4 linked regions of the Homo sapiens genome follow. The protein of the gene in region 1 interacts with the protein of each later gene in a pairwise test. Each region holds a gene or a part of one and is shown in the gene's direction. Other genes may lie near its edges. The genes, in order: ECSIT, GEM, BFSP2 and TARS3.

Evidence for each region.
Region 2: the proteins of ECSIT (region 1) and GEM interact in binary tests that used the Homo sapiens proteins (3 or more experiments, as listed by UniProt).
Region 3: the proteins of ECSIT (region 1) and BFSP2 interact in binary tests that used the Homo sapiens proteins (3 or more experiments, as listed by UniProt).
Region 4: the proteins of ECSIT (region 1) and TARS3 interact in binary tests that used the Homo sapiens proteins (3 or more experiments, as listed by UniProt).

The regions. Positions count from the first base shown.
Region 1 is NC_000019.10:11,519,135-11,526,160, reverse strand, and holds part of ECSIT (evolutionarily conserved signaling intermediate in Toll pathway, mitochondrial isoform 1 precursor), read left to right. Parts: intron 1-2,307; exon of another isoform or gene 2,308-2,805; intron 2,806-3,610; exon of another isoform or gene 3,611-4,230; intron 4,231-6,967; 5' UTR 6,968-6,990; coding exon 6,991-7,026.
Region 2 is NC_000008.11:94,252,312-94,259,337, reverse strand, and holds part of GEM (GTP-binding protein GEM), read left to right. Parts: intron 1-6,225; coding exon 6,226-6,302; intron 6,303-7,026. UniProt on the Homo sapiens protein: Could be a regulatory protein, possibly participating in receptor-mediated signal transduction at the plasma membrane. Has guanine nucleotide-binding activity but undetectable intrinsic GTPase activity.
Region 3 is NC_000003.12:133,395,381-133,403,075, forward strand, and holds the start of BFSP2 (phakinin), read left to right. Parts: upstream 1-4,675; 5' UTR 4,676-4,703; coding exon 4,704-5,192; intron 5,193-7,695. Other genes in the region: TMEM108 (transmembrane protein 108 isoform 1 precursor), read left to right, coding at 484-606.
Region 4 is NC_000015.10:101,679,474-101,686,499, reverse strand, and holds part of TARS3 (threonine--tRNA ligase 2, cytoplasmic), read left to right. Parts: intron 1-437; coding exon 438-604; intron 605-2,262; coding exon 2,263-2,425; intron 2,426-2,883; exon of another isoform or gene 2,884-2,985; intron 2,986-7,026. UniProt on the Homo sapiens protein: Catalyzes the attachment of threonine to tRNA(Thr) in a two-step reaction: threonine is first activated by ATP to form Thr-AMP and then transferred to the acceptor end of tRNA(Thr).

The DNA.
Region 1 (7,026 bases):
AAACCCTGTCTGTACTAAGAACGCAAAAATTAGCCAGGCATGGTGGCATGTGCCTGTAATCCCAGCTACTCGGGAGGCTGAGGCAGGATAATTGCTTGAACCCAGGATACGGAGGTTGCAGTGAGCCAAGATTGCACCACTGCACTCCAGCCTGGGCGACAGAGCAAGACTCCGCCTGGGAAAAAAAAAAATGCAGATTCCAGTTCAGTAGGTCTGGGATAGGGCCGAGATTTTGCTTTTTTTTTGAGATGGAGTTTCGCTCTTGTTGCCCAGGCTGGAGTGCAATGGTGTGCTCTTGGCTCACTACAAGCTCTGCCTCCCAGGTTCAAGCAATTCTCCTGCCTCAGCCTCCCAAGTAGCTGGAATTACAAGCATACACCACACCCGGCTAATTTTGTATTTTTTTTTTTTTTTTTTTGTTAGTAGAGACAGGGTTTCTCCATGTTGGTCAGGCTGGTCTCGAACTCCCGACCTCAGGTGATCAGCTGGCCTGGACCTCCCAACGTGCTGGGATTACACACGTGAGTCACCATGCCCGGCCAAATTTTGCTATTCTAATAAACTTCCAAATGTTGCTGACACTGCCAGTCCCTAGAACACACTTTAAGTAGCTGTAGTTTTTTTGTTTTTGTTTTTGTTTTTTTGTTTTGAGTCAGGGTCTTGCTGTGTTGCTCAGGCTGGAGTGTGTGGCATGAACTTGGTTTACTGTAGCTTGGACCTCCCAGGCTCATGTGATCCTCCCACCTCAGCCTCCCAAGGAATGAGAACACAGACAGGTGTATACTACCATGCCTGGTTAATTTTTAAATTTTTTTATAGAGACAGTGTCTGGCTATGTTGTCAGGGCTGGTATTGGACTCCTGGGCTCAACCAGTCCTCCCACCATGGCCTCCCAAAGTGCTAGGATTACAGGCATGAGCCACCGAGCCTGGCCCTGAAAATTTAAATTAAGGTCTTAATCCTAGGTGCATATGAAAGTCATTGCAGTGCTTTTTATGTTTATTTTTATTTATTTATTTTTTTTGAGATGAAGTTGCACTCTGTTGCCCAGGCTGGAGTGCAGTGGTGCAATCTCGGCTCACTGCAACCTCTGTCTCCCAGGTCCAAGTGATTCTCCTGCCTCAGCCTCCCTAGTAGCTGGGATTATAGGCGCCCGCCACCCTGTCCCGCTAATTTTTGTATTTTTAGTAGAGACGGGGTTTCACCATCTTGGCCAAGCTGGTCTTGAACTCCTGACCTTGTGATCCACCCGCCTTGGCTTCCCAAATTGCTGGGATTACAGGCATGAGCCACTGCGCCTGGCCAGAGTGCTTTTTATTTTTTATTTTTTTATTTTTGAGATAGGGTCTCACTCTGTCACCCAAGCCAGAGTGTGGTAGCACAATCATAGCTCATATAACCTTGAACTGCTGGGCTCAAGTGATCGTCCCACCTCAGCCTCCTGAGTAGCTGGGACTACAAATGAGTGCCACCACACCCAGCTGGTATTTTTTTTCTTTCTTTTTTTTTTTTCTTTTTGCTGTTCTTGATCTCCCGGGCTCAAGTGATCCTCCCACTCTGACTTCCCAAAGTGGATAAGAAGCATGAGCCGCTGTGCCCAGCCTTCAGTGGGGTGCTCTATTTATTTATTTATTTTTGAGACGGAGCCTTGCTGTGTCATCCAGACTGGAGTGCAGTGTGGCGCAATCTCGGCTGACTGTAAACTCCACCTCCTGGGTTCAAGCGATTCTCCTGCCTCAGCCTCCCGAGTAACTGGGACTACAGGCGCCTGCCACCACGCCCAGCTAATTTTTATACTTTTAGTAGAGATGGGGTTTCACAATGTTGGCCAGGATAGTCTCGATCTCTTGACCTCGTGATCTGCCCACCTCGGCCTCCCAAAGTGCTGGGATTACAGGCGTGAGCCACCCTGCCAGGCTACTTTTGACACCCCCAAAATCCAGCCAGGTGCAGTGGCTCACCTCTGTAATTCCAGCACTTTGGGAGGCCGAGGTGGGAGGATTGCTTGAGCCCAGGAGTTTGAGATCAGCCTGGAAAATAGAGGGAAACCCAGCCTCTATAAAAATTGTAAAAATTAGTTGAGTGTGGTGGCGCACACCTGTAATCCCAGCTACTCAGGAGGCAGTGGTGGGAGGATTGCTTGAGTTGGGAGGTCAAGTCTGCAGTGAGCCATGATCATACCACTGTACTCCAGCCTGGGCAACAGAGTGAGATCCTGTCTCAAAACAAAAAATCTTAACTACTAATAGCCCACTGTTGTCCAGAGGTCTCAGTGATTACATAACAGTCAATTAACTTATTTTTTTATGTGAGCCAAAGATTTATGTCTTCATTTCTTGCATTTGAAGTACTCTTGGATGACATCCTTGGCCTGAGACTCCTTGCCATAGTCCTTAACTACTACACAACTGCAACCAACCACTTTACAGGGTTTCCCTTCTCTCAATTTTACAGAGCGCTACCCATTCCCCTAGTTTCTTGTTGTCATCAACCTTAATTAAGTTGATTTGGTGCTCAGCACAAAGGGACTCCACCAGCTTGACATACATAGGCTTATCACAGTTGGATCAAGCACACAAAGATGGGCTTGGCGCTTGTCTAAGGCTTTGGCAGCTTCACAGATTCCACGTGCTAGGCCATCGTGGATGAGGGCGGTCTTCAGCACCTCTTGTAAAGCAGTATTAACATCCATTACACCTCCAGCAGCAATGCCTCCCTCGGCCATGGCAGTGGGTTATGGGTGAAGCTGAATCTTGAACATACCCAAGCCTCCGCCTCCGCGCAACTCGGCAGTGGCAGGGAAAGGGTGATTAACATATTTTTTAATGTTATATATATATATAATACTATAATCTTACAATAAGCTGAAGAAAAGAAAATGTTATTAAGAAAATCAGGAAAACACATTGAATTTACTATTCATTAGGTGGAAGTGGATCATCATAAAGGTCTTCATTCTCATCGTCTTCACATTGAGTAAGCTGAGGAGGAGGAGGAAGAGGAGGGGTTGGTCCTGCTGTCTTAGGGGTGGCAGAGGCAGAAGAGGTGGTGGAGGAGGTAGATGGAGAGGCAGGCACATTCAGCTGTAACTTTTTTTTCTTTCACTCTGTCACCCAGGCTGGAGTGCAGTGGTGGGATCTCAGCTCACTGCAAGCTCCGCCTCCCGGGTTCACACCATTCTCCTGCCTCAGCCTCCTGAGTAGCTGGGACTACAGGTGCCTGCCACCACGCCTGGCTATTTTTTTTGTATTTTTAGTAGAGATGGGGTTTCACCGTGTTAACCAGGATGGTCTCGATCTCCTGACCTCGTGATCCACCCGCCTCACCCTCCCAAAGTGCTGGGATTACAGGCGTGAGCCACCGTGCCCGACCTTTTTTCTTTTTACTAGCCCCTCAGTGTTTAAAGTTGTAACTTTTATTTAATTAAATTTAATTAATTAATTTTTTTGAGACAGAGTCTCACTCGGTCACCCAGGCTGGAGTGCAGTGGCGCGATCTCAGCTTACTGTAACATTGCCTCCCAGGTGCAAGCAATTCTCCCACCTCAGCCTCCTGAGTAGCTGGGATTACAGGCATGTACCACCATGACTGGCTAATTTTTTTTTTTTTTACCGGGGCGTTCCTGAGTTTACGTGGGGCACACCTGGGTGAGGGCCCTACCCCTAGAAGAAGGTGTTGGGCCTTTTGGTGGTGAAGCGTGGCTTGTGCTGATGGCGCAGGACCTGGTGGGGCAGCGGGAACTTGATCTTGGAGTCTTGGAACTGCTTGACGGCCAGCCGGTGGGACTTGCTGGCTGCTATCTCCTCCATCTTCATGATCTGGATGGAATGGGTCCAGGTGGGGTACCGGGCGCCCATGTCTCGGTAGCACTGGGTGACAGCGCCCGTGGTGGTCAGGTCCCAATATTCCTGGTACATGTTGTGGGTGCTGCTCTGGGAGTTTGTAGCGCAGCCAGATGCCGAAGTTCTTCACCCGCAGGCGGTACTTCTCGAATGCCTGCCCACAGTTGACAGTCTCCCCGAAGACTTCTTCATCTTCTTTAGCTGAGATACAAAGTACCAGAAGTGGGACTTGGCAACGACATGATCAGGTGCAAAGATTCGCATGTGGTAGAGGGGTGGTGTGTGGCATTTGGGAGTGAGCAGGCAGCAACCCACCACCTTGTACTCTTGTAGTGTGCCCGAGGCCTTCATGGCATCCTCTCCATGCTTGCCGCCACCGGCAAAAGGAGCCTGGCTAATTTTTGTATTTTTAGTAGAGATGGGGTTTTGCCACGTTGGTTGGTTGGTCTTGAACTCTTGACCTCAAGTGATTATCCTGCCTGGCCTCCCAAAGTGCTGGGATTACAGGCGTGAGCCACCACACCTGGTCTTATTCTTATTTTTCAGACAGAGTCTTCCTCTTTCGCCCAGGCTGGAGTGCAGTGGCACGATCTTGGCTCACTGCAGCTTCTGCCTCCTGGGTTCAAGTGATTCTCCTGCCTCCGCCTCCTGAGTAGCTGGGGACTGCAGGAGTGTGCCCCCAGCCTGGCTAATTTTTGTTTTTTTGTTTTTTTAGTAGAGATAGGGTCTCTCCCATGTTGGCCAGGCTGCTCTCGAACTCCTGGCCTCAGGTGATCTGCCTGCTTCGACCTCCCGAAGTGCTGTGATTACAGGCGTTAGCCACCACGTACAGCCATAACTTTTACTGAAAAAAAAAAAAAAAATCCACGTATAAATGGACTTATGCTGTTCAAGCCTTTGTTGATGAAGGGTCAACTGTACGTTGCCGATGGGAATGTGAAATGGTGCAGTCATCCCCAAAAACAGTCTGGCAGTTCCTAAAAATGTTAAACATGTAGTTACCATATGTCTCAGCAGTTTGACTCCTAAGTATATACCCAAGAGAAGTATAAACATGTGTTCACATAAAACTTCTACACGAATGTTCATGGCAGTAGTAGTTATAACAGTCAAAAACATTTGGCAAACAACCCCAAATGTCCATCAATTGATGAATGCATAAATAAAATATGGTTATAGCCATACAAAACCTGGTTATATTCCATTCCAAAAACAGTGGAATTGGCCGGGCATGATTGTAATCCTAGCAATTTGGGAGGCCAAGGTGGGTGGATCACTTGATGTCAGGAGTTCAAGACCAGCCTGGCCAACATGGTGAAACCCTATCTCTACTAAAAATACAAAAATTAGCTGGGTATGGTGGCGGGTGCCTGTAATCCCAGCTACTTGGGAGGCTGAGGCAGGAGAATCACTTGAACCCGGGAGGCAGAGGTTGCAGTGAGCCAAGATCATGCCATTGCAATCCAGCCTGGGCAACAAGAATGAAACTCCATCTCAAAAAAAAAAAAGCCCGGGTGCGGTGGCTCACGACTATAATCCCAGCACTTCGGGAGGCTGAGGCGGACGGATCACAAGGTAAGGAGTTTGAGACCAGCTTGGCAACATGGCGAAACCCCATCTCTACAAAAAAATCTATAAATTAGCTGGATGCAGTGGCACACACCTATAGTCCCAGCTACTCAGGAGGCTGAGGCAGGAGAATCGTGAGCCCGGAAAGCAGAGGTTGCAGTGAGCTGAGATTGTGCCACTGCACTCCAGCCTGGGAAACAAAGCAAGATCCTGTCTAAAAATAAAAATAATAAAAATTAAAAAAAAATCTATGCATGAACCTTGAAAACACGTCAGTGGGCCAGGTGCGGTGGCTCACGCCTGTAATCCCAGCACTTGGGGAGGCTGAGGCTGGCGGATCACTTGAGGTCAGGAGTTCGAGACCAGCCTGGCCAACGTGATAAAACCCCATCTCTACTAAAAATACAAAAATTAGCCGGGCGTGGTGGCATGTACCTGTAATCCCAGCTACTCGGGATGCTGAGGCATGGGAATCGCTTGAATCCGGGAGGCGAAGGTTGCAGTGAGCCGAGATGGCACTATTGCACTTCAGCCTGGGTGACAGAGCGAGACTGCATCTCAGAAAAAAAGAAAAAAGAAAAAAAACATGTCAAGTGAAGGAAACCAATCATAAAGGAGCACTTGTGATTCCAGATTCCATTTGTATGAAATGGCCGGCATAGGGAGATCTATAGAGACAGTGGATGAGTGGTTTCTTGGGGTTGGGAGTGAAGGGAAATTGAGTGCTAATGGGTACAGGGTTTCTTTCTTTTTTTTTTTTCTTCTTTTTTTTTTTTTCTGGAGATGGAGTTTTGCTGTTGTTCCCCAGGCTGAGGTGTAATGGCATCATCTTGGCTCACTGCAACCTCTGCCTCCTGGGTTCAAGCAATTCTCCTACGTCAGCCTTCCCAGTAGCTGGAATTACAGGCGTGCGCCACCATGCTCGGCTAATTTTTTGTATTTTTAGTAGCGATGGGGTTTCTCCATGTTGGTCAGGCTGGTCTCGAACTCCCAACTTCGAGTGATCCGCCCGCCTCAGCCTCCCAGAATGTTGTGATTACAGGCGTGAGCCACCGCGCCTGGCCAGGTACAGGGATTCTTGTTGGAGTGACACAGATTTTGTAAAATTAGATTGTAGTGGCTAGGAGTGCTGGCTCACACCCATGATCCCAGCACTTTTGGAGACAGAGATGGGAGGATCACTTGAAGCCAACAGTTCGAGACCAGCCTGGGCAACACAGCAAGACCCTGGGTCTCTGCAAACTATTTTCAAATTAGCTGGGCATGGTGGCACGCGTCTGTAGTCCCAGCTTCTCGACGCTCTGGGGCTGGAGGATCACTTGGGCCCAGAAGTTGGAGGCTGCATTGAGCTATGATCACGCCCCTGGGGCAGCAGGATTAGGGTGCTGTCCCAAGAACAAAGTCTTTGAGTCATCAGCCTGTTTCTTGGGTAAGGTAAACATTGGGGCTGGTGAGTGAGCCACATAATCTGGAGTGTGCCCTCGACCCTGCGGGGCCCTTGCGTCTGTTAGCATCTGTAAGGTGCCAGGCTAATGCTGAATCTTCTTTTGGGCCAGGTGATTGTCTGACAAGCAGAGGCATGAGCTGGGTCCAGGCCACCCTACTGGCCCGAGGC
Region 2 (7,026 bases), on another chromosome or scaffold:
GTCACATGGTCTGTGTTCTGTCGCGACTCACAACTGAATCACAGAGTAGGGAGGTGTCTTAGCGATGACTCAGTTCTCCCCTGCATTGATGCATATTAATGTTATTCCTCACTACCCACAGCCCATCTCATCTGGAGGTTTTATTCTTCTTGATTGTCTCAGTGTCAAGGAGTTCACTGCCTCATGAGGCAGCTCAGGAACTGGGCTATAAATAATGACTCATTGTTGTAACATTGATTTCTCTCCTCACTCCTGGAATCTCAGAAGAGTAAAGGGAGAAATAGGGCCAGTGTTGTACAATTGATTCCCTCTTTCTTTGTAAAGGCTGCCAGGTGACTTGCTAGGAAAGAGAAACGGGAGGAAGGGGCTAGCATTTAGAGTGAATGTTTGCAACGGGAGAGGCACTTTGTTAGGTGCCTTATATTTGCTGCTGTTTATTTTGGTCTTCACAAAGTTCTTGTACTCATGAGTAAACTAAGTCTCAGGGAGATCAAAAGCCTTATCCAGAATCACCCAATAAGGAAGGTGGATTTAGAATTTGGGATTTTATCATCTTAGTTCAGTTCATTTTACCATTTCTGGGGAACTTGCTATGTGCCAGGCACTGTGTTAAATACTTCCCACACATATTTTTGATAATACTTGAATCAATCTGGCATTAATATACCTATTTGACAGGTGAAGAAATGGAGGCTTACAAAGTCAAGTGACTTTCCCAGGGTGAAAAAACTAGTACATGGTATGACCAGGATTCAAATCTAGTTGTGATTGAACCCAAATCCTGTGTCTTTTCATAGCCCCCTGCAGCCCCAGGATTTAGCTTCCAAATACTAAGTATGACAGCACATTGGGCATCAGCCACACACCTGGCTCTGGCCTAAGCTCTGGGATACAAGGCGATGGATGAGGTATACCATGCCCCCTAGTAATGAGCTAAGTGTTAGTTGCTATGTTGCAGAGCAGGGTCACATTAACTAATATTTTAAGCAGTAACGATACAGTGCTTTGGGCGTTGACATAAGGAAGAGATGGACTGGGAGTTGTTTTTTGTTTTTAAGAGGGAAGAATTGAAAAAAGTTAGTGGATAGTAGACTTTCAAAAATGTTTGTCCATTAGAATGGAGTTGTATGTATCCAGAGGGTAATATTCCCATAGGCATAAAATGTTAAGAAGACTGACTCATACCTGGAATTTGGAAAGGTAGCCTTCCCAGATATTTTGGGAACTTCTTTGTTGAGAGAGAGAGAGAGAGATGCCCAATATGACAGCACATTGGGCATCAGGCATATGGCTGATCCTGGGGCCGCAGGGGACCATGAAAAGACACAGGATTTGGGTTCAATCATGAGAGAAAGGGAATCCTTTCCCTAGCTTCTTACACAGAGAATCTGTAGGACCTGCTGGAATCACTAGTTGGTTTTGTTTCCCAAGAGGAAGGTTTTCTAAGGCACACCCCTACATTTTTTTTTTTTTAAATCAGCATTCACTGTAAGAAAAAAAATCGACATAATATTCTCATAATGATTTCTCCTAATAAAGATGGATATTGTTACAGTTACACTACAGTAATCTTATGACTCTCTGTATACACTGAATGCCATTCATTCATTCATTCATTCCTAAGAAGTTACTGAATGTATAGCACAGAGCTTGGTGAGGCACTCTGGGGACATGCAAAGAGTCATGGGGCTTCTTCTGCGGAGATGCTCACAGTATGCAATGGAGCATAATGTATACACCAAGTAGAAATTGAGATAGGATGTGGTAAATGTCTTGAAAGTGGTGTAAGGAGAGTGCTGTGGGAATTCCGAGGCGAAAAGATTACCTCTGACTGTGGATTTAAGAGCTTCATGGTTGGCCCGGCATGGTGGCTCATGCCTGTAATCCCAACACTTTGGGAGGCCGAGGCAGGTGGATCACCTGAGGTCAGGAGTCCAAGACCAGCCTGGCCAACATGGTAAAACCCCATCTCTACTAAAAATACAAAAAATTAGCCGGGCGTGGTGGCATGTGCCTGTAATCCCAGCTACTGAGGAGGCTGAGGCAGGCGAGTCATTTGAATCTGGGAGGTGGAGATTGCAGTGAGTCGAGATCTCACCATTGCACTCCAGCCTGGGCAACAAAAGTGAAACTCCATCTCAAAAATGAAATAAAATAAAATAAAAATAAAAATAAAATAAAATAAATAAAATAAATAAAAGCTTCATGGAAGAGATGGTCTCTGAACTGGACCCTAGGGACAACTAGGATTTGGAAGCCCTGAGCTAGGTGGGAAGGCACACCACACATATATAGCAAAGTACGGAAGTCTCATTGGGCTTGGGGTTTGATGATGGGTTTAGACGCAGCTCTGACACTGACTTGGCTGGGTGCTCTTGGACAAGCCACTTAGCCTCCTCAAGCTGCCTCATTAGTGTAATTGGGGTAATACCTCCTTCATAGGGTGTTACGAGGATTAAAGGATATAACATGTTGAGCATGGAGCATGGTGCCTGGCACATAGTAAGTACGAAATGAGCATTAGTTAGAGCTGATTCTGAATCTACCATTTCCTTTTGATGTGCTTATCTTTCAAAAGTGGTGGTTTCCTTGCTTGTGGCCCCTGTCCACTTTGGTCACTGTTGGCTGGGGCCCGTGGAGCTGTCCAGAGGGGACCGGGGCCAGTAGAGTAGAGGACAGTATTTGTAGAGCAGGCATTTCTTCTGAGGTTCCTTGGGATCCCCTGAGCTATGAAAGCTGGAAGCAGTTGAAAGTTTTCAGGGAGAGGGATGCTGGAGTCTCAGAACTTTAGAGGTGCTGCAGGAGTCAGTTCTGGCAGTGAGAGAACACTTGGGCGGGTTTCACACACACACAGCACTTGAGCCAGTCTTGGGCAGAAGGGGCCTCACTTCCAAGCACAAGGAGTGTTAACGAAAAAATTATTAACATGGTAAGGAAGACTTTATTCAGGGCCATTGCAGTAGGCATCCCAATAGTGGGGAGAGATGGGGCTCAATTCCAAGTACAAGAAGAACAAGTGGGCACTTAGCCAAGGAGCAGGTGGGAGGGGGTCAGAGGATAGAAAATTACTAAGAGGAGACGTCAAGGTTAGGGGGATTCTTGCTGAAGTCAGGCCAAGGAGCAGGTGGGAGGGGGTCAGAGGATGGAAAATTACTAAGAGGAGACGTCAAGGTTAGGGGGATTCTTGCTGAAGTCAGGCCAAGGACTTAGACTATCAGAGGTGGTGGGTGAGGAATTTGATCAGATATTGAAGGTGGGGGATTCTCACTAAACTGACTTAGCAGGATTCTTGCTAAAGCTGAATTCTGCCAGGATGGAAACGGAAGCCCAGGGAGAGGCCGGGTAGAGAAGAGGATTCAGAGGAGCCTGACTAAAGTTTGGTCAGGGAGAGAGTCTGTCAGGGGGATCAAATGAGGAAAGACAAACTGGTCTAGAGAAAGTGGCTACTGACCACCATCACCCCTTATAGAACGTCTGTCTGTCCCCATCAGCATGAGTTCTTTTGCTACATAGAGTGTGCACAGACACCCCAGCTTTCTTCCAGTGCACTGGAGAAGTAGGGGTGTCTCCAGACCCAGATTACGGAAAAGCCTCACAGAGACTAATCAGTATCCAAACCTTTCTCCACACCTTTACTGGAAGCAGATTTCAAAGAGCTCTCCTAGAGTCTGGTATTCTTTTCCTTCCCTTCTTCTCACCTGATTAGCACTTGAAAAGGATAAAAGATGAGCTGAGCAACTTAGATGAAGAGAAACCTGGAGCTCTGGTTACTCCCAGGCTTGCACCTGGTTAGGGGAGAGCCTTCAGTCGGGATGCCATGTGTGCTGGAAGGGTCCTGGTGCACACAGCCAGAGGCCGTATCTAAACTCATGTACTGGGGTGGGGGGTAAAGTGGGGAGCACACGTGCTGAGCAGGGAGGAGATGGATTGTTTTAGCCTCCCAGGCCTCCAACACCGTAATTTTCAGGCAAAGGTAAGATCAGACAGAATGATCCTGTCAGGAAGCTTCTAGAACGGGAAAGCATGTTTTTACTTTCATGGCTGTGATCCTTAGTCCACTTTTTCTCTAGACTTGTTCTGATATCTCTTAAGCCAGGAGAAAGTTGGGTTTTCCTTTTCCGTCAGCGATTGGAACACAGTATGTTTCTATTTGAATGACTGGGCACTCAAGCGAGTCCCCTGTACCTGAGTGGTGGGCTGAGAAAGTTCCTCCATCATTGAAGGAGTTGTCTGAGTGCAGGGAGGGGTTTTAGAGAAGAGCTAAGAACCCTGTGGTGGGAAGCAGCAGTCAGGCCATCCCCGTTCTGTGCTGCTCAGGCTCTGACAGTCTCCCTTGCGTTGTCTAATTTACAGGTTGAGGTTGTGAGGTTCTACCCCTGGTAATCCAAATAGTCCCACTGTGATCTCATTCCTTCTGCATATTGTGAGCAGGCACACGATGGGCGAGACAGAGTTTTAATTCCCCAAGGGCAAACACTTACTGATTAGAAGAATGACGCTGTGGGAGGTGGGGAAACTCACAGAAAGACAGGGCCATGCCTGGTTAACTCTCTTCTTATTTGTCCAAGTTTTCCTTCTCTAAGGAAGGGAAACCTCTCCTGATTCCAATTCTTAGATGATGAAGCATTAAACCAGGAGCAGTGTTTTTCGTAAACTGCTCGCTATTGTAAAACAAGAAGTGCCCTGGTTCCAACGTAGCTCTCTTAAGCTAGGATTTATCTGTAGTGAGGAAGTGCTGAGTATGGCAAGAACCAGCTTCCTTCACCTGAAGAAGTGATAATGGCTAACACTGACTGAGTTTCTACTTTGTGCCCAGGCTTAATACAGGTAATTGTCACATAGCCCTAAGGTGTGAGTACTATTATCAATCCCATTGCACAGATGAAGAAAACTGAGGCTCAGAGAGCCTAAGTTGCGTAGACCCCCAGAGTTCATAAGGGATGGCACCTGGATTTGAATTCAGGTTTGCTTGTTTTCACAGCCACAATGCTATATTTATCATTCGTTCACTGTACAAACTTTATTGTGCACCAGCAATGTACCAATGTGCTGGGGGACACAGTAAACAGCATAGATGCAAATGTCTGCCCTAACATTACGAGAGGGGCAGGAGGGACAGAAAATAATAGAATAAGTAAGTTAAATGTGTTGTATGTTAGGTGGCAATAAGTGAGATGGAGAAACATAAAGCAGAGAAGGAATATTGTGGGATAGAAGTGTTGCAATTTTAAATGGATGGCCAGGAAGCACCTCCCCCAGAGGGAGGTAAGGAAACAGGCCTTGTGGGTATTTGAGGGAAAAGATTCTAGACAAAAAGAACAGAAGAAAAATGATAAATCATTATGAAAGTCATAATTTTCAAAAGATGAAATTCAAAACAGGAAACCTCATTGTGAAAATAGAGTGGGGATGGGCTCAATGGTATTGGGATGAGGGAAATCCCACTTGCAAAAATCCCACTGTACCCCTTTTCTACGCCTGCCCCCCATGGATTTTCCAGGCTGGAACTGCTTTGGCCCATTGTACTGTACTGTGTTCACCCTTCACCTACACAAGATCTGGGCTCAAGTGCAGGGAGGAAAGTTTCCATTACCAAGTAGAGCTGGAGGCTGCATTTCTATTATACTCAAGATGGAAAAACAAGCCCACTTATTCCTAGGGAACAGCATTTTTTTTAAAAAAAGGAAGAAAACTACAGCCAAAACAGGGAGAGTCTCAAGATTCATTCTTGCACTTGTCCGAAGAGGAGCAATGTCTCTGAGCCCAAAGCTCCTGAAATTGCTAGTGAGTATTCAGTAACTACCCACTGAAAGGTACAATGGACTTATGAAAATGTGGCTTACAGTTTCACTGGGTGGTTAATGTTTCCTCATAGCATTAACCATTGAATCTGAGTCAAAAGCTCTTGAGTAAGTTTATCCTCACAAATGATTTTGCCATACAAAAGGTCCAGGAATGATGCAAACAAATGCCTTTTACTCCATGTGGTTTAGTGACACATGTTCGAGAGAGACGTTCTGCTGGATAAGGACTGGAGGAATTATATGTAGAATGTTGTTGAAGGTGACAAAAAATAGTAATTTGCCTTTGAAAATATCTGTATACTTACATAATTAATTGCATATTTAGTAAGTTTATGTTCTAGCACAATTTTCTACCTGACCCTCTTATGGAGAAGTGTTGCATATTCGCCTGACTCCAATATCTTTGTTCTTTCTTCTCTAGAAGATACATATGAACGAACCCTGATGGTTGATGGGGAAAGTGCAACGATTATACTCCTGGATATGTGGGAAAATAAGGTATGCAGAGCCTGTAGCTCTCTAAATTCCTTTAGGGCTTTCCTTTCAACAAGTTGTTTGGTGCAAGGGTGACCTTGTCCTATATAGTAGGTGTTCCAGATGAGGTGGGCTCATTTTCTTGATTAAAAGCATACTGCTGAAGAATGAGACTGTTCTAAGGAACAGGTCGTTCACAGATGAGTTCTGAATAACAAGCAAGTTGTAGTGACTTGCCTTTAGTTCTATTAAAAAACACACCCAAAAAGTTTATTTGTTTTAGGGAAAATACAAACAGGCATTGACTGTTATTTTAAATAACATACATCCATCTCATATGAAGTTGAGATTCTCAATACCAGTCTTCAACATTGGCTTTTTAAAGATTTTAAAAAGCTTCAGAACCTATGTGCTAGACTTCTGTTAATTGAAAACCCTCCTAGTCCCACAAAAGTGTTCTTAATCTCATCACTTGGAAAAGGCAAAAGGGAGTTTTTGGGAAGTCAGAAAAGGCTCATTTTTGGTAGATTAAATAGAAATTGGAAATGCTGTTTGGCAGAGAAGTTGTGTAATTTATCAAATCAAGCTGTAGAAGATACTGAAAAGTGAAAACTTTTTGGCATAAATACTGGACAGGCTAGCAATCTTTACAGCCACCAGACATCTTATAGGCATAGAAGACCAATGCTTTTAGGGAGTTGGAAGCGATTTTCTTCCTTTTTCCTATTTTTCCTATCAGCAAGTGTAC
Region 3 (7,695 bases), on another chromosome or scaffold:
AGGCGAGTGAGTCTAGGTGTATTCAGGAAGGAAAAGCAGAGAAGTTTCCCAGAAGTCTGTGAGAAAGAGGCAGGAAGTAGTCTGGGTGCAAGTGGACTGAGTTTTGCCACTAGTGCAGTGAGCCATGCACTGTATGTGTGTCATGCATGGCAAGTCCCCTCAGACTTTGACAAGGAAAGCAGTACCATCTCTGGCAACCTGGGATTGGGGTGATTCCAGAAGCAGGGAACATTTTTTGAAAGCTGCTATAAAAATATGAAAGAACAGCACAAAAATTAAAATATACACATACACACACACACACAAATTAATTAAAAGAATGGCATAGAGGGCTGTGCACCTCAGCATTAGCAGTAGGGATGATGAAAATGTGCACCAAGCCATCAGTGCTGAAATAAATGTTCCCATGTGTACATTTCTTTAAGAATGGCCACCTCTTAAGCCTTCTCCAGCTCACTCCATCTCCTCCCTCTCTCTTCCCAGGACCAGCTCTCAGAGCCCCGCTCCCCAGCCAATGGCGACTATAGAGACACTGGGATGGTCCTTGTTAACCCCTTCTGTCAAGAAACACTGTTTGTGGGAAACGATCAAGTATCTGAGATCTAACTACAGCAGGCATCACTTTGCCATTCCGTATTTTTCGTCTCTAAATTATAAATATACAAATACATATATTATAAATATAACCTTTGTGTAACCCTGACTTAATGAGAAACATTTTCAGCTTTTTTTCCTATGAATTGTCAACATCTTTTTTACAAGTGTGGTTTAAAAAAAAAAAAAACTTTACAGAATGATCTGTGGCTTTATAAAATAAAGGTATTTCTAAGCAAAGCAGTTGCATTGATTGCTTCTCTTAATAACTATTCTTGAGCACCTGGGGATCCCAGGAACCCTGGTCAGGTGAGGTAAGAGACTGACCTCCTGTAGAAGCTGAATGTTACAGTGCAAGCGCACGATTCTTTGAGTGATTCTTAAAGCTCTGGTTCCTCTTGATTTGGTGTGACCCCATTTCCTCCCTTCTCATACGCACACCTGTAAAGGGAACTGGACCGCCTCAGGGGAAGACGGCAGACTCATGCACAGAGAAGGAAAAGGGAACATCTCATCACCTCTGAGGATGAGTACCCTGGAGCCTTATGACGGCACCATTGGATGTCATGTTTAATTCCATCCAAGTTGTGGATGGCAGGCAGGAGCATGGAGCCCTCAGGAATCCATGGAGGACATCAAGGCATCCCAAGGCCATATTCCCCTAACATTACTTCCACTGCTAACAACAGGACTGCCTTTCCCTGGTGGGAAAATGCTCCCTTTATGCCCATTCCTGTATCCCCTCCAACACCCACATCTGCATTAAACACCCGTGCCTTTCTCTTGGAGAGGGTTTAGATGCAGATCCCGGCCCTGGAGCTTTAAAATGCTTGCCCTTCCTTCTTCAAGGATCAAATGTTTATTGGGGTTCAGCTTTGTTTTCTCAAAAGGCCATGGTATCGTGCCCCTGAGGAACATGTTTATCTAAGAAGCTTTGAGGTAGTAGAGCGATAATTTTTGAAACCTTCCTCCTGCAATCTTTAAAAAAGAAAAAAAAGATTGCCCAAACAAATCATTTGGGAGAAGACATCATTATACTCCTACTTGGCACTGCAAACCTGCTCGCAGCACCAGCCGGTGGACTTGCCATCCAGCTCTCAGCTTCCACTGCTCCCCTTGTTCCCGGCCGGCTGGCTGCCTCCCCGTGCTGTGTCCAGCACGGCCAACAACGTCAGACCCTCAGAGACGCCCAAGGGGCTTCCAGAGGTGGCCGCTTCTCTATTTTTTCCTGATTGTGGCTGAGAGAGATGATTACTGCTTTGACACTTCCTTTCTCTAAAAGAAAAATAGTTTGATAGTATATTTTGAATATAGATGCTCTTATAGTCAGATTGGGAATTGAACTTGAATATTGGGTCATATGTTTGTGTTGTTGCTGTAGTCTATCATGACTTTTTTCTTTCTGCATTTTCCTTAAAAAAAAAAAAAAGATGGCCTTCAAAAGTGTGTTCTCAATGTTGTATGAACCTCCTTCACATGAGTTCGGTTGTTGTCTCTCTTCAAAGACTCTTCAACCCACAAAGAAGCAACTAAATGTTTCTCTAAGTTTAATTTTCTAGCGTGTTGTTGTCTTACCTTTTTAACCTTACCATAATATTTCTGTTAACTGTTACATTTAATATACCAATGTGTGTAAGTATACAGAGAAAAATCTGTTTGTAAAGTAAAATTTATATATAATATATGTAATCAAAGATACATATGTTATATATACATATGTGGATGTATGACTTATTTTTCCTTATCCACAGATTTCAGCTACCATGTATATATAAATAAACTTATTTTATTAGCCAGAGGATTCTGTTGCTAATACATTTTGCATTCTTTTCAAGATAAGCTCTAAGTCTTCCTTAAGCAGTACCAACACCACTTTATATCCATCTGTATTTTTTAATCTGATTTAACAGTAAGTTGAGTTTTATGTATGTGATGAGCTAATAGGATTAGCAGTTTATCATTTGATAAAATAAATCTTTTTGAACATGTTTGCAGTTTCTCCAAAACAGACTCATCTTTCATCAGGTCTTTGGAGACAGTGGTGTCAAAGTACATCCCCCCCTCTTTCTCCCTGTCTCCAGGGCTGAGTGGATTTATATAGTAAATATCTTTGGTCCGGAGAAGTCTGAAGTTAACCTGGCCATTGAGTGTTACCATTCTGTAGAGAATAACAATGCCTAAACATGACACATTTGTGCACAACTTAATCAGTAGCCTGAACTTTTCATTCAGCCTTGGACAATACATCTTGGAATTCACAATAATGCAGATCCTCAGAACCAAGTCAGTGTCATCCGTATAGGAGGCTGTTACTGTAACACAGGCTCGCATGCCCCTTCTGGGTGCATCAGGGGTGGTGTTCACAGCATTAATGCTACATCTGAATAAACAAGGACACTACTGGCCTTTACTTAATCCAATTGGTTCTTTCATCTGTTCATCAAATAGCCAACACTGATATTTATAAAATACCTCCCAGGCCATCTCAGAGAGACAAAGTGGAAGACAATAAAGAAAGGAAGGGTTGGAGTGTCCTGGTCAGTAGGAAGGAAGTGCACACAGGGTCCTCTAGTAGGCGACCAGGTTTTTTACCTCTACCTGCGTGACCTCAGGTAGGTACTCTGCTCTCTGGGTGGTGGGCAACAGGGAGGCTCCTAAGTAAGTCAGTGGCCCAGAGTTTGGAAGAGGTTGTCTGCCCCCAGCTCTGCTACTTTCTGGACATAGAACCTTGGGCAAGTCATTGCAGCTCTCGGGGTCCTCCTCACATAAGAGGACAGTGGCCAACTGTAGGACATGTCATTTTAGAGCTGTGAGGTACACAGCCCATATGGCAGTACCTGTCAACCCTGGACCTCCTTCCTCCTGAGGTTGAGTTGAGAATTCCACGAAATAAACCATAGGATTCATGCACACACCAGGCTGGATCTGCTACTCACTAGAGATTGACTCCCTTCTCCTTCTCTCACCTGAGGTACATTCCTACATTACAGCATCTGGAAAAGTATCCAGCTCTGGGGTTTGGTGACCTGGTTTCTCCAGGGTAAAACTTATGTACAGAGGTTTTTAGGTCCATGTTGTCATCCTGTAACTGGGGGAACCTTTCTGATCCTAGAGAAGTGATTGAGGTGTGACCCTTGGTGGCTTAGTGGATGCCAAGGTCAATAATTAAAACCCAGGGGTGTCATCATATCCTAACTTGGGGCACCCTTGGAGAGGCTTACCAGAAAACACCCTCGTTGTTGTTTTTATTTCTCAGTTTTCCAACAGATGGAGAAGCAGAGGTGTAGGGAATGGCCGGAACATGTGTGGGATCTGAATTTGCCCAAGGTCCTTATCTGGTGCATCAGAGAGTTAAAGGCCCAAGCCAATGTTCAGACAGTGAGGTCCAGAGGGAGGAAGCATCCTGGCCAACAGCAAGCAGCTGATGAACAGCAGAGCATTAGAGGACAGAGATGAGGAGGAAAGGAGAGAGGTGAGGGAAGGACCTGAAGCTGCTGCCAGGACTGAGAGAGGAAACCATAGGCAAGTCTTTTCTCTTGGGTCCCTGGAGCTGCCTCCTGCCATTTTTCATCCTCTATTGCCTGTGTGGACATGTGTTCACATTCACATGTGCCAGCACACATAGGGATGTAGAAAGCCCTGAAATAGCTAGATTGAGTCCTAGCTTGTAATCTGAGGTCTGGGGCAAGTGATCAGTACACTTGTCATCTGAGGTCCTTGAGCCTCAGTTTACTCATCTGTAAAATGGGGTTGCTTGATGCCTGCCTTGCCCACTTAGGTAGTAAAATGCACAAACCCAAATGGTCTACCTCCACAGCCTGCACTGATCCAGCCTCCCCCACCACCAGCAGAATAATCTGGGAGGTTGGGCACATGACCCTGCATCAAAGAATGCATGAGTGCCTCTCTGCACACAGCCCTGGGCAGTGCCCATTTCTCTTTCAGCTCAGTGAATGATGGAAACTCATGGAAGACAGCAGACAAAGCAGCCCCAGGGATAGGGGAGATTCCAGAGAGGCCCGTGACCAGGCCACAGGGATGCTGGGGCTGTAAACCAAAAGCCACTGGACTCTGTAAACCCACTGGGCACCACAGAGGCAGAAGGGGTGATGAGTGAGAGGCGAGTGGTAGTGGACTTGCCCACCAGTGCCAGCTCCAGCATGCCCCTCCAGAGGCGCAGGGCGTCCTTCAGGGGGCCACGGTCATCATCCTCCCTGGAGAGCCCCCCAGCCTCCAGGACCAATGCCATGAGTGGCCTTGTCCGAGCACCCGGGGTCTATGTAGGAACAGCACCCAGTGGGTGCATAGGTGGCTTGGGTGCCCGTGTGACCCGCCGGGCCCTCGGCATCAGCAGTGTCTTCCTTCAGGGCCTGCGGAGCTCAGGCCTGGCCACCGTGCCGGCTCCAGGTTTGGAGAGGGACCATGGTGCTGTTGAGGACCTAGGGGGCTGCCTGGTGGAATATATGGCCAAAGTGCACGCCCTTGAGCAAGTCAGTCAGGAGCTGGAAACACAACTGCGGATGCACCTGGAGAGCAAAGCCACACGCTCGGGAAACTGGGGTGCCCTACGGGCTTCCTGGGCCAGCAGCTGCCAGCAGGTAAGTGTCCAGGCTGTGCCAAGGGCTTTGCAGAGGGCTGGGAGGGGCTGCTGAAGGCAGCGGGTAGGGTTGTGAGTAGGCTGAGGCCAGAGAAACTGACCATAATCCCCTACACTTTCACACTTAAAATGGTAATGATAACAACAATGCTACCTTTTACCGAGGTTTACTAGGAGCCCACGCTAGCCCCCATACGTGCACTACCCACTGTCTTCTTTAAACTTCAAAGAAATGCTATGCAGTGGATCATTCACTGATTGCATTTTTCAGATGAGAAACTGAGGCATGTAATTTGCCCAAGACTTCAAAGCTAGTAGAGGGATGGAGATGAGATTTGAACCTGAATTTTTGTGCCTCCAAAGTTGCATTTGCCCCATTACCCTGGGGCTGCCTCAGTCACCTTTACTGTTGAGAAGGGATTTTTACAGCTATTATCCAATCAAATACCATTGGATGGATGAGGTGTTAAGAACAATGAATAAATGGAGGTGTGTTCCTGTATCCACCTACAACCACGCTGTTCAATAGAAATATGAACTACATTGGTAATTGACAAGTTTCTATTACCCACAGTAAAACACGTAAAAAGAAGCAGGTGAAGTTAATATTATAGCTTATTTAACTCTATATGTCCAGAATGTTATTTCAACATGTAATCAATACAAAATATATTAATGAGGTAATTTACATTCAAGTAGAGCTTTCTGCGTGATGGAAATATTAATATCTTATATCTGCACTGTCCAATCTGGCAGCCACTAGCCATATATGGCTATCAAGCACTTGAAATGTGGCTAATGAGACTGAGGAATTGCATTTTTATTTTATCTAATTTTCATTAATTTAAATGTAAACAGCCACAGGTAGCTAATGGCTATCTTATTGGACAGGGAAGGATGCAGAGGTTTCATCTTTCTCCCTTGCTTGGTCAGCCCTGCTTTTCCCACTCTCCAGGGTGATTTCTGCGGAGTCTGGAGCACATCCATCATGTCTGGCCTGCAGCCTGTAGTTCTAATGCTGGGACTCCAGCCAGCATTACACCTCTCAGCTGGTCTCTCTGTGGATAGCTGGCTTCACCTCTCCTCCTCCTCTTTCTCTCCAGATGCTGGCCTTGGGATCCCTCTGAGCAAAATCAGTCTCTAACCCACCAGGGACTGCCAACTCAGACCCTTGGCCCCCTGGAGTCCAGTATGCAGCCTCCCAAGAGGAGGTCACAAAATTTTATTTGTGTATAGCTGGGGGAAGCTAAGCAGTTGCACACAGGGACTCCCCATTTGCCCCTCCTGCCTCCCACTTCATCCCAGGATGCTTCTCCTGCACTGCTGTCAGTGCCCACTGACAGCACAGAGTGCATGATGAACAGCACCATCCTCTCAGGCTCTCCCCCTGGTGCTGCTGTTCTGCTTGCATCCATCTGGGCTGCAAGGGAGAGCCATCTTAGAACAGTCCAGGGCCTTAACGCCTGTCAAATCTAAGAGGCAGCCATTCCTCCAGGATTCTTCACAACTGTCCTTATTCCAAATATTGTGCCATAACAACCACCAGAACATCCCTAGATACTCCAATATGTCAGCATCTGCTGGACAATCGCTTGCAATCAGATGCCACACAGACTTGTCAGGAGAAATCAGGTATCCCAATGGCTAGGTTAAAAAGTAGGGCCACAAAACTTAGTTTATACTCAATAGATACTGACTTGTTCTGGCTCCAGATAGCTACAAGAGCCTTTGCAACTTACTAACTTCTCTGGGCCTCAGTTTCATTATCTACAAAATGGGTATAACAATGCTTACATATTCCAGCAAATCTGTAGACAAATAAGAGCCTGGCTCCTGCTTACAGGTAGAGTACAGACTAGGAAGCTCTAAAATCCTGTGAGAGCACCACAGCCACACACCAAGACATGCGACCTCTGTAGTTGAGGGTCAGGATCCCACATGGGCTCACTTTCCTCTTAAGTGACTATAAATGAGGGCCTGGGTATGAATAAAGTTCTCTTTTTCTTCTTTTTTAAAAAATCATGGACTTGAAGATAGAGTAAGACCAATTGATAAAATGGAGTTATTATTTCTTTTTTTTTTTTTTTGAGATGGAGTCTCATTCTGTCACCCAGGCTGGAGTGCAGTGGTGCGATCTCAACTCACTGTAACCTCCACCTCCCGGGTTCAAGCAATTCTCCTGCCTCAGCGTCCTGAGTAGCTGGGATTACAGGTGCACGCCACCACGCCCAGCTAATTTTTTTGCATTTTTAATGGAGATGGGGTTTCACCATGTTGGCCAGGCTGGTCTTGATCTCCTGACCTCAGGTGATCCACCCGCCTCTGCCTCCCAGAGTGCTAGGATTACAGGAGTGAGTCACCATGCCCAGCCTGGAGTTACTTTTTCTATATTGCACAGCCCAGCCTTTCAGCCATATTAAACTCTATTCCATCAAGAAGAACAAAAGAAAACTCCATAATTGAGAAATGCTCCTGATTTTTTCAGTGAATCTGGCCTCGTGGAG
Region 4 (7,026 bases), on another chromosome or scaffold:
ATACACTAAAATTCTTATTTCTGTTTAAAACTAAATAAATCAAAATTATAACATGCAACATGGCATTCAGGCTTATTAAATTATAAATTTTTTCTGCCTCTTAATAGGAAAAAACCTGTTTAGAAGGACTTTGGAGTAGTTACAGTGAGTTTCTATATATATTGTATTTCAATTACTACTTTTCAAAGAACTAAAACATTATATACTATATACTGTTATATGCTATAAAATAAATATACTCAATAGAAATTATACTAAGCATATGTAAATCTTTCTTCCAAGATCCAGAAACCACCACACCTAAAACTGAGGGTACATTAATCATGAATTAATATAGGACATGAGCCCAATTTGAAAATATTTGCTCATAGTGTTACTTTGCATGGAATTGTGATCTGCCCTAGCAGATTTTAATGTTGAATGCATGTATCTTGAAGGAGGAATATCACAAACGGGACTTCACGGAGGTGCTCTCTCCCAATATGTACAACAGTAAACTCTGGGAAGCCTCAGGCCACTGGCAGCATTACAGCGAGAACATGTTTACCTTTGAGATTGAAAAGGACACTTTTGCCCTCAAACCCATGAATTGTCCAGGGCACTGGTGAGTATTAAAAGCGAAGCAGACCTTTTCATGAGAGCACATAGCACGCTTCGTCACAATTATCTTTTAATGCTTTGTGGAATGAAAGAGTCCCTTTAATCTGAAGAGTGGTGATTACTAATTTTTACTAAGTTGTTTCATTCCGGAGAATGGATTTACTTTTGAAAATATATTTGATCTTTGGCAGGTATGGGATGTTAGCTGGTAACCATTGCATTTTTTTGTGCTGATTAAAGGATAATGTTATGTGTCAATTTTATAAGTTTTATAATATTTGTCTTTCTTATAGTAATGCACTTCACATGTTCATATTTGCAGAATATTTAGTTCTTTCATACTGTTTGGGTGGATTATAACAAGATCAATGAGGTCATAATCAATGGGTTTCTGGATTTCACTGATTCCAAGATACCATTTTTCTTCCACATTTCAACATTTCTGAAGTTGAAATGCATCTTATAGTTGGTGGCATCTTAGCATTATATCATAATTTAATTAATAGGTTATTTTCTTTCTTTGTAGCACATAAAATGAAGATACATTTTACAATCAATGCTGTCTTTGATTCTATGAAAGACTAATTATCATAAAGTTGGTATGCAAATTCAACCTTGTAAGACAAACATATTGTACAACTGAAACTGAATAGGCATAATTGTCCACAAAAAACAATCCCAACAATTGTAGTTTTTGTATTATCAACATACATAGTTTCAAGTAAATTTACCTAGAAGATAATTATTAAAACCGGTAACTGAACACTGAAGAAAGCTCTTTGCCCTTTTAAGTGAAGATGAGAAGAAATTTAACTTTATGATGATGTCATGTAAAAAATATATATAACTTTAATTTTAGGAACACCGGTATGTAAACATTCTGTATCCTCTCTTTCTAAACAGAAGGTAGAAGCTATGCTAGTGTTTTGCATTGTAAAACACTTGTGTTAACAATTTCTTAACTCATCTTCTCAAAGGCATCCTTTAAAATTATAGCCTCGTACTTTATAATGAAAGTAGAGAATTTAAGTTTGTCTTTTTACACCTCAGAATAAGAAAGCAAGACCACGGTGGCTTAGAGGCAATGGGATATGGAAGCTAGGAGTGCTTTCTGCAGGAGAGAAGTCTTTCATTCAACAGAGAACATAGTTGAGTGCTTTTTGTGCTTGGAGCTAGAAGTGCAGAGGTGATTAAGACACAAACCATTCCCTCATGGAACTCATGAGCAGAGTGGGCAGGGCCATGCATGTAGACAATCTGTTATAAAAAGACCAGTGCCATAATGATGGCATGTTTGAGGTGTTCCAGGAACGTGAGGAGAAACTGCCTAGCCCTGTCTGGGAAATGTCTAGGAGGGCTTCATTTAAGAAGTAGCCTTTGAAATGAATCATAAACAGTAAATGGTGATTCACTGTGTGGATAAGGGGAGGGAACAGCATTTCTGGGAAGAGATAATAGACAAGCATCTTTCTCAGAGTGCTGCAGTGATGTAAATGCAAGGTTCACTAATTTGTGGAAGAATTTTTTTTTTAACCTGGTGATCTAAGAACTAGAATAAGGAGTTTATGAATCTTGAGGCTTAATTGTAATTTCTTTATATTTAGATAATTATTTAATATTTCTGTGCTGTGTAAAAGCTGTGTGTTACCACATCTTTTCTAGTCTAATGTTTGCCCATCGTCCACGATCTTGGAGGGAAATGCCTATTAGATTTGCTGATTTTGGAGTTCTGCATAGAAATGAACTGTCGGGGACTCTCAGCGGCTTGACCAGAGTGAGGCGCTTCCAGCAGGACGATGCTCACATTTTTTGCACAGTGGAGCAGGTAAACAATAACACAGAGTGAAGCAGTGTGGTCACAAATTGAGTGTGATGCCCCGCACACATCTTGTATTCTTTCAGAGTTACTGAAACATAGACGTTTGGTCTAGTCTCTGAGATTCATTCAGCTCTAACCTGCTGTGATTCTCTAAATTAGGTCAATAGATTAATCATCTCTTGACATGAAATATATTCCTTCAGTGATTTTATTAACCTAAATTCCATTAAGTGGAGTATTTTAAGGGATTTGGTGGAATTCTGGATGTTTTGTTTTTCAGTATCGCCTAGAACTTAAAATTTACTTTTTCAAGTTTTTGTGTTAATTCAAGTTAAAATTGCCATGCAAAGTTTCACTGTCAAACAATTTGACCTAATTGATGTTTATATAACAACAGCAGAATATACATTCTTTGGTTTCATGTTGGATGGGTAATGTGCCAGTGTTGTATCCAATGTGCTTCATGTGGGGTGGGTAATATGCCAATGTTGTACCGAGGTGTGAGGGAGGTACATCTTACACATGTGTGTACACCCAGTCATCACGCTTATGAACTACAAAAAGCTCAGAGTATTTGTTCTTTGAAATTGCACGTAGAATATTTACTAAAATAGACCATATTCTGGACCATAAAACAAGTCTCAGTGAGTTGAAAGGGATGCAATTAAAATAAAATGTTTAATTAACCCTAATGTTTAACCCTAATCCTAACTGACCACAATAGAATTAAAAATAGATAACACAAAATCCAAAGGAAAATTAGACAATTTTATATAACAAATGAAATAAAAACACATCAAAATTTGTAGGATGCGATTTAAGTGGTAGAGGGATGTTTATAGCACTGAATACCTGCATTAGAAAAGAAAAATCAATGACTTAGCTTTTACTTAAGATAGAAAAAGAAGAACAAATTACACCCAATGTAATGGAAGCAAAAGAAAGAAAATAAGAAAGAGCAGAGCAGAAATCACTGAAATAGAAAATAAAGAGTAAAAATAAAACAAAAGCTGGTTCTCTGAGAAGATCAATAAAATTGATAAACCTTTAGTCAGACTGATGAGGGAAAAAAGACAAATAAAAATGTCAGGAATGAGACAGATGTCATCACTACAGATTCTGTAGCTGTTAAAAAGATAAGGCAGTTTTATGAATAACTTTATGCTCATACATTTGACAGCTTAGATGAAATGGATAAATCTTTGAAAGACAAAACTATTAAACTTTACTCAAGAAGAAGTAGATCATCTGAATAGCCCTGTGTCTACTACAGAAATTGAATTGATAGTTAAAAACCTTCCTACACAGAAAACTCCAGGCCAAGATGGTTTTACTGGTGAATTCTACCAAACATTAAAGAAGGAATAATACCAATCTAGAGATACTCTTCCAGAAAATTGAAGAGGAGGAAATCTTCACCACCTCATGAAGCTAATGAAGCTAATATTGCTGTGATAGAAAAATAAGACAAAGAAATTAAAAGAAAACTACTGAACATCTCTCATGAACATAAAATCAAAAAATTTAAACAACATTTTACTAAGTCAAATCTAGTAATTTTTTAAAAAGGACATCTTAATCAAATGGACTGAATCCCAGGAATGAAAAGGTAGTTTAACATTAGAAAATGAATCATTGTAATTCCCCACATTCACAAACTAAAAAAAAGAAAACAAACAAAAAGACAAAAAGCATATTATCTTCTCAGTAGATGCAGGGAAAAGTATTTGGCAAAATTCTACATCCATATCTCATAAAAACTCTCAAAACTAGGAATGGAAGGGAACTTTCTTAACCTGATAAAAGGCCTCTATGAAAAACCTACAGCTAACCTCATACTTAATAGTGAGAGTCTGAATGCTTTACTCTTAAAATCAGATATTAGGTAAGGATTATCTCATTACTTCTCTGATCATTGTACTGCAGGTTCTTTCTGATGCAGTAAGTTAAGAAAGAGAAATAAAAAACACCTAGATTGGAAAGAATTAAAACTCTTGTAAATGACATGATCATCTATGTAGAGATCAGATGGAATCTACAGAAAGCTATTAGAAGTAAGGTGAATTTAGAAAAATTGTAGTATGGAATATCAACATACAAAAATGAATTGTATATGCATTTCATAATAATAAACCCTTGGAAATTGCAAATAAGAAACAATTTGTAATAGCATCTCAAAACATATGATAGTACTTTGGGATAAGACTGACAAATATGTTGCTATGGACTGAATTGTGACTCCCAAAATTTATATGTTGAAGTCCTAACCCCCAATGTGATGGTGTTTGGAAATGGGGCTTTTGGGAAGTAATTAGGTGTAGATGAGATTATGAAGATGGAACCCTCATGATACGATTAGTGCCCTTTTAAGGAGATGCCAGAGGCTTTCTGATTCTCTCTGCCGTGTGAGGACACAGTGAGAAGTCAGCCGTTGGCAAACTAGGAAGAAAGCCCTCACCAGGGAACTGAATCAGCTGGCACATTGATCTTGGATTTCCCAGCCTGCAGAACTGTGAAGAATAAATGATTCTTATTTAAGCCACACAGCCTATGGATTTTTGTTCTGGCAGCCCAAGCTGAGTAATACATACATACACAACCTATACAGTGAAAACTTTAAAACATTGCTGAGATAAATTTAAAGAAGGCCTAAATAAATGAAATATACCTTGTTCGTGGTTTGGAAGACTAAATATTATTAAAATATCAGTTATCCCCAAGTTGATCTATAAAGTCAGTACAATCCCAGTCAATACCCAAGCAGACCTTTTTTCCCTGTAAGAGTTGACATGCTGATTCTAAAATTCGTATAGAAAGCACAAGAACCTAGAATAGCCAAAAGAACTTTGAAAGATAAAAACAAATTTGGAAGAGTCACTATGCTTGGTTTCAAGAATTATGAGAAACTACAGTAATCATGCTGGTCTAGATAGATAAATCAGCAAAACAGAGTCTAGAAATAGACACAAATATATGGACAACTGATTTTTAATTAAGATTCGAAGGCAATAAAATGGAGGAAAGGTAATATGTTCAACAAATGATGCTGGAATGATTGTGTATCCATATGCAAAACATGAGGTATGAGGATTCATACCTCATACCATATGAAAAAATTAAGATGAATCACAGGCCTAAATGTCAAACATAAAAATACAAAACTTCTAGAATAAAAATTGGGGAAAATCTTTGTAATTAGGTGATAGGTGATGATTTCTCAGATATGACACCAAAGGGCAATCCATAAAAGAAAAAAGTTGATAAATTGGATTCCTCAAAATTTAAAACTTCTGCTCTTCAAAAAATACTGATCATAGACAGGAAAGACAGGTTACAGACTGGGAGAAAATATTTGTGAGGCATATATCAAATAAAGGACTTGAATCCAGAATACTTAACAAATATTCAAACCTCAATAAGAAAACAGACAACCCAGTTAAACAATGAGCAAAAAAGACCTGCTTTGGGGAAGATGAAGCAGGTGCTTTCCCTTTCCTTCCCTCTAAGAACAAGTAAAAACCTTGGATATTACATATAAAACAAACACGAGACTCTGAAAGGTGTTGAGAAAAAGGGCACACTGGCTATGGACATCAGGACCTAAGAAACAACATGGTAGTGAGTTCCTTAGGTGTTTTTGTTTTGTTTTGTTTTGCCACATATATTCCAGACTTGGCAACCAACAGATGCCAACAGGCATCGATAAAACAGGCCAACAGAAGTCTGCTTGCTGTAGCCAAAGGACTAGGAAAGGGGCAGCCTAGAAAGATAGAAAAGTTTTAGACAATATCTACTCTATTTCAACCAGACACCACAGAAAAAACTGTGGCCCTTTATATGCCAGCTAAGGCTGATTGAGAAGCTTATATTTTAACTCTCAGCAGGCTCTAAATAAGTACCTCAATACCTGTTGGAATGGGTAAGAGAAGGCTTATTAGGAAGCTGGGAATTTTACTCCTGCATTAACAAGATCCCATCCCCCTCCCCCAACCCAGCAGTGTCAGTGAAGACTATGTGGGGAGCCTGGACTTTTGCCCTCCCCTGGAAGTAATGAGGTGCCTCTTCCAGTCCTGCTTGAGTAGTGTCAGAAGACGTCTAGTGGAAAGATAAGACTTTCTCACTGCCAATTGGTCATGAGGCCATGCTTTCTGTGTGCAGTAAAGGCCATGGAGGGGGGCTAGAACACCTGTGCAACCCAGAAGTAACGAGGAGCTCCTCTCCCCTTACTTCCTTTCTAAAAGGAGCTTGGACTGCTTTTCCCACTTGCCAGTAACTGTCCAGTACTGTCCTCCCTCTGCTGGAAGAGTGTCAGTGGAAGTCAGCTAAAACAACATTTAAGATCCAGAGGCTTACTATAAAACCGAAAATGTCCAGGTTTAAGAAATTGAAAATCACTCATCATGCTAAGAACAAGAAAAATCTCAACTTGAATTTAAAAAGACAATCTATGAACGGTAACACTGAAATAACAAAGATGTTACAATTATCTGCCAGAGATTTTAAAGCAACCACCATAAAAATGCAATTACTAACTAATGAGCAATTACTAACACACTTGAAACAAACAAAAATTACAAAGTCAGCGAAGAAACAGAAAATCTCAGGAA